Regions from separate parts of the Homo sapiens genome. Here region 2 is linked to region 1. Evidence: fine-mapped expression QTL. Tissue or cell type: lung. Region 1 holds a variant in brackets; the other region holds the start of a gene. All regions are shown on one strand. Distances are from middle to middle. Region 1 holds the start of LOC105374748 (a long non-coding RNA gene). Region 2 holds the start of ANXA2R-OT1 (ANXA2R overlapping transcript 1).

Region 1 (2,835 bases):
TCAGTCTGAAAAGTGAGGAGATGGAGGATTTGAGCACTTACAAGTTCACCTGCATTGCATTTCCCAGAAGATAGAAATCAATGATGCATTTTGAAGATCATGCTGCTAGAGACAGAGAACCACAACTTGAGCTTTTCTCTGGGCTTAGAGAGGAGGTGTATGTCTCGCTGTCAATTCTACATCCAACGCTGGAATCTTTCAGCCCATTTTCCTCCCCGGCTGTTTTTGAACTACTATCCCCAAATATCGAGGATATCTGACAGAGTGAACCATCAGAATAAGGAGCGATTGCCACAGAGTTCCATCCAGTAGGGGAGGGACTTGATGTGCGGGGCAAGCCTGATGCCCGGGTCAGGCGACTGTGCCTTTCATTCTCCACGGAGATCTTGAACCTAGAGTTTCCAAGTTCCGAAGAGATGCGGTTGTCGACAGCTCTCCTAGAATCTCTGATGGCTCTGAACGGGGACAAAGGTCTAGGGCAGAGGGATGGTGTGGAAGGACCCAGCCACGGCCATTGGAAGAGCAGTTTCCTGCAATGTAATGCTGTTTGCGACCAGCATAAGCTTTAGCTCTCTCCCAGGACGAGCCACATCCGCCCCATTCACGGTCCTTATTCCAGCTCCTTTCCCTCTGCGAATCACACTGGGTGGGTCGCTGGGGGCCTCGGTAATTACGGATTATGGCACAGCCAAGAAAAATACAGGTTTTCTTAAGCCTGAAGCCACTGACTTGAGGGGGGAGAGTAGGAGTAATGCCAGCAGCAGTTTTGTATTTGGTTTTTGTTTTTATATTCTAGTCTCTAGGCCACAAGACAATGTTGCACCCAGTGCCAGTCGATCCGTCACGGCGCCGCAAACTTTCCCTGAACGGAGGGTTTGTGGCTGACATCTCTAGTTTCTCAGAGCCTGGGAGTGATCACTGGCTGCACCGCTGATGGCGCCCAAAAGAACGCGCATTTGTCTTTGGCAACAGCGCTGGGTTTCGCCTCGTGCCCGCGCCTGAAGGGTCCTAGCGCCGCCAGATTCTCACACTCGCGGGTCCAGCGCCCAGCGCTGCTCCTCCCACCAGTCATCGGTTTCTCACACGCACTTCATTGGCAGCACTGGCGAGTCAGTTTTCCGGTGGCGGCGGCGCTAGTTGGTCTGCACGAAACGTTTCCCTTCTCGCTCCGTGTGTCCCATTCTCCATCCCACGTCCTCCAGTGCCGGGGTCA[T/C]GGTCGCAGCACCCGGCGTTCCCGTTGGCTCTTTTGCCGCTGCGCGGAGCCGGCGGTTTTTCTGTCACAGCACTTGTACGGAGTTTCTCGGCGGCCGAACGTCTCTTTTTTTCTCAGAGACGACGGTTTCTTGGTGACAGTACCGTTGGTTGCGCCGTAACGAATGTTCTCCTTGACAGCCCCACCAGCTGGCGTCACTCGCAGGCTCCAGACGCCGCCATTTCGCCAAGCCGAGGTCTCTTGGTTGCGGCACTGCTTCTGGCTCGGTGCCTGTATTTTCTCGGTGCCTACAGCGCCCAGGTCGCCGATCTGAGGGCTTCGGAGTACCGGCCGGGCGCGGTGGCTCACGCCTGTAATCCCAGCACTTTGGGAGGCCGAGGCGGGCGGATCAGGAGGTCAGGAGATCGAGACCATCCTGGCTAACACGGTGAAACCCCGTCTCTACTAAAAATACAAAAAAATTAGCCGGGCGTGGTGGCGGGTCCCTGTAGTCCCAGCTCCTCGGGAGGCTGAGGCAGGAGAATGGCGTGAATCCGGGAGGCGGAGCTTGCAGTGAGCCGAGATCGCGCCACTGCACTCCAGCTTGGGCGACAGAGCGAGACTCCAACTCAAAAAAAAAAAAAAAAAAAAAAAGAAAAGAAAAAGAAATCTGGGTACCCGCGAATGCGATTTTTTTTAGGTTTACCGATGATCAGTTTAGCAGTGCCTGGGAGCTCTTATACCAAGTTTGTTTTCGCAATATTGAGTCCCACCTTAGCTAAGCTTGTGTGTATTTTAAACTCCCATGGAAGTCAGGAAATGTCCGCAAACGCGATTTCTGGTTACCAAGCTCCGTTTGGCAATAGCAAGTCCTGCCGAACGCGACTTTTTCCTCTTGTGGACCAAGTCTGAATAGACCAGCTACTGCGATTTTTAAGTCGTAGTAAAAAAGGTTTAACCGTGACTGCTTTTTTTTGTTGGTGTTGTTTGTTTTTGTTTTTGTTTTCGTAGGAAATGTAGACTTAGGTGTAACATGTACCGGTTTAGATCTGACAGAGATATCACAATTGTAGGATTGCATCTTTTAGCAAGGTTTGTAATTTCTTCTTTCTAGGATTGGTTCTCTGTAATTTTTGCTTATTTTTAAATTCTCTCTTTGTCTTTTGCTCTGAGAACGATGTTACCGATGTGTTTGCTTTCCATGTTTACTTGCATTTTAGCCTTTATTTTTTTAATTTTGATTTTATTTAAATGTTATGTATTTTTTTTCTACTAATTTTGAGCGTCTCAGCTTCCTGCTTCTTTACTTACATTCTCTCAGGATCCGGGGAGCCGAGCTCGGTCTCAGTCTCCCTGCTGTCAGGTGCCAGGTTGTGTCTGGTGGCTCTCCTTCGTATGCGGAGCTGATGGTTTTGCATCAGCGCTTTTGCCAGTAGAGCCGACTAGCGTTTTCTCAGTTACGGCACCGTTCTTAGCGCCCAGTGTGACGTTTCCCATTCGCCAGGTCCTTATGTTCTCTGTGCTGTCACTTTCTTGGTTCTCGCACCGCTAGTATCTGCTAAAGAACTTCCTAAACCATGTTTTACTGTGCAGAACGGTGATTGCACGGAGCCGCTGTACGCACTAGTAATTTCATAGCACCG
Region 2 (2,902 bases), 49 kb after region 1:
AACTCTCAACTTGCTACGGTAAGAAATAACTAAACTCTGACTTGGTCAGACTAAGAAATCAGGAGTTTGAGACCAGCCCAGGCAACATGGCGAAATCCTGTCTCTAGGAAGGATACAAAAAATTACCCGGGCGTGGTGGCGCGTGCCTGTGGTCCCAGCTACCCCGGAGGCTGGGGTGGGAGGATCGCTTCAGCCCGGGAGGCGGAGGTTGCAGTGAGCCGAGATCGCGGCACTGCACTCCAGCCTGGGCGACAGAGCCGGACCCCGTATCAAGAAAGAAAGAGAAAAGAAAAAGAACCAAAGAAAAAGAAAAGTCACCATCGCACGGTTAAGTCTGCCTTGCTACAGCTAAACAGTGACTTCCTAGGACCAAGAAATCGCAGCCAGGGCTAGACCGATGCCCTAAATCGGGACTTGCTTAGGCTGAGAAATCACATTTTGGCTAGTTATTTGGACAAGAGGTAGAAATAGCGGGCACCGCGAAATCGAAACTTGCTAGGACCAAGAAGCCAACGACGGGCGAAACCGCAGGGGCCTGCGATAGAGACGCCAGCGGCGCCGCCGGGGGACTGGGTTCAGGAGGCCGAGCAGGAACCCGTGCGTCGGCGCTCGCGGCGCTGTGAAGAGACGGCGTCCGCGCAGCTCCTCTGCCTCTGGCTCGGAGGAGCGGCGGGCTCCCCCGCCCAGCGCCGGCGTCGCCCGGGAACCCCAGACTCTGCGCAACTGGCTGCGATTCCAAATCCCTCAGATCGGCTACCAGAGCGCTGCCGCCACCGAGAAAATGGAGGCACCGAGGAACAAGATGTGCCGCGACCAAGAGAACTCGGCTTGGCGAAATGGCGGTGCTGGGACCCTAAGAGTGACGCCAGCCGGAGGAGTTCCCAAGGACAACATCCATTTTGGCGGAACCAACGGTGTTGTCACGCAGAAAATGTCGACCCTCGGAAAAGAGAGGTTCTGCGACCGAGAAATTCGGTGCAACAAGTGCTGTGACAGAAAACCCCCCGCTCGGCGCTGCTGGCGAAAGAGCCAACAAAACGCTGGGTGCTGCCACCGTGACACCGACTTTAGGACCCCGGCCTCGGATGGAGAAAGGAGGGTACGGAGCCACCACATAACTTCCTAATGTCTTCAAATAGCGAAAGTGCTAGCCGGAAACTGCCGGCTGGGTTTACCTATTGGTGCTCGTGTGGGACTAGCAGATTCGAGAAACCAGCGGGACTGGAACCTAGTACACTTCGGCAGTTGAGAAATGACTTACCAGGACAAATACTGCTTCTGGCTCGATGGTGCTGCCCATGAACATCCGCCGGCTCTGAGAAACGAGCTGCACTGTCAGTGAGAAACCGTGGGCACTGAGAAACGAGCGGACTGCAACTGATAACTGCCCACCCAGTGCCACTACGACAAAGTGCTGCTGGCACTACTCCCACCCTCCGTCCTCAAATCAGTCCCCTCCCGCCTAAGAAGACCTTTATTTTTCCTAGCGAAGTCATACTGAGGGCCCCATCAACCGATCCCTTGCGATGCGCATGGGAAAAGGAGGCAGTATAGGGACCGAGAATCGGGCGGATTGGGCTGGCCCTGGTAACAAAAGCCATCCGGGTCGCCAACCGTCTTCCACTGCAAGAAACAAACCTTCCAGTGGCTGGGCTCCGCCCTTCTCCTTGGTCAGAGCCCTCCAGGCTCCTAAGGGCGAAGCCGACACCTCATCCCTTTGGAACTTGAAGTTCTCAGTCCAAGACCTCCGTGGAGAGTGAAAGACTCAATGCCTCCTGACCGAGGCTTCAGGCCTGCCCCGGCAGCTAGGTACCTCTCCAGGGGATGGAACTCTGTGGGAACTGCTATTTAATTCTGATGGTTAACTCTGTCAGATGGCCTTGATATATGGGAATAATCGTTGCAGGAGGGTAGGGGAAATAAGAATCGCAAGACTCTAGCACAGGACGTGTGGATTGATGGTGAGGCCTTTGCTCCCTCTCCCCTTGAAATCCTCAAAGGGCAGTTCCCGATTTCTATCACCTTTGAAATTCATCCCTGATGTCTTCTCCATCTTTGGGAAGTGCAATGCAATTTCAAGCTCTTGAATCTTCCCTCTCCCACATTTGTCAAATATACTGACGCTACAAACTCCTTTCTTACAGGAAACCTGAAACTGCCATTGAGCAGAAGGAAAACATCCCTTTCCAGAACCTTTCTCGTTTTTCTAAAAATCTGCACTTTTGGAAGTGATCCCCCAAAGAGACCTCCAGACTCTACCATGAGTGTCTCCAGCTGAACTCATCGTGTCTAATCCTCACCCTAGCTTATCCTGTTCAAATCATTTCCATCTTTTTCTGGATGAACCTGGGCGGATGTCAGACCAGAGAAGAGCACAGAATGTACCAGAGAGGTAAGAAGACCCATTTTGGGCTCTCACTTCTCACCCACTCCCAAGATGGTCACCTCCAGTCTTCCCCCCTATACCTTACCCTTTCTTCAGCTAGCCAAAACCTGCCCTGGTACTTGAGGCTTCTTCAGTTGCCTTCTTTTGCAGGCAGTAGAATAAAGGAAAGAGGGCAGTGTCAATAGAAGAAAAGTTACAGCCACTTTATCTAATTGAAGATACTGTGCAGAGCCTTTGAAAAAACAAAATATCTCACCCACCATTCCTCTCTCCGTTTCCACCCTAGCTTCCTATTTTAGCAAAAATGGTGGGATCAGCACCTCTGGAGGGAAGGGGTCACTCTTCCAGGTTAGGAATGTGGACAGGAGTTATGGAGCTTACTTCCCTAAAGGAGGAGGCATTCTAGTTCCGGCATTCAGATTCTGTCTGATTCCAATATGGTGTTTGTGTGGGGTGGTCAGAGAAAGGGCAAGTCGGCAACTGTATATTCCTCAGCAAGAGACTATAAGACATTTG

What was found. PIP is the estimated chance that this variant, and not a neighbour inherited with it, causes the effect.
Region 2: it holds the start of ANXA2R-OT1, and the variant in region 1 is fine-mapped to the expression of ANXA2R-OT1 in lung (TOPMed, PIP 0.92).

Annotation. Positions count from the first base shown.
Region 1 is chr5:43,017,033-43,019,867 of GRCh38, forward strand. All of the region lies in intron 2 of ANXA2R-OT1 (ANXA2R overlapping transcript 1), which reads right to left. LOC105374748 (a long non-coding RNA gene) reads left to right here and starts at 1,113. Exons shown (of 3, transcript NR_188279.1): 1 at 1,113-1,640; 2 at 2,204-2,284. RefSeq lists enhancers at 442-681, 1,080-1,602, 1,142-1,281. The variant T/C (reference allele first, on the strand shown) is at 1,214.
Region 2 is chr5:43,065,826-43,068,727 of GRCh38, forward strand. It overlaps ANXA2R-OT1 (ANXA2R overlapping transcript 1), which reads right to left and starts at 1,614. Exons shown (of 3, transcript NR_104651.1): 1 at 1,473-1,614; 2 at 1,262-1,332. It overlaps LOC100132356 (a long non-coding RNA gene), which reads right to left and starts at 1,146. Exons shown (of 1, transcript NR_034127.1): 1 at 1-1,146. LOC100506639 (a long non-coding RNA gene) reads left to right here and starts at 1,198. Exons shown (of 3, transcript NR_102752.1): 1 at 1,198-1,961; 2 at 2,145-2,392. RefSeq lists an enhancer at 826-1,225.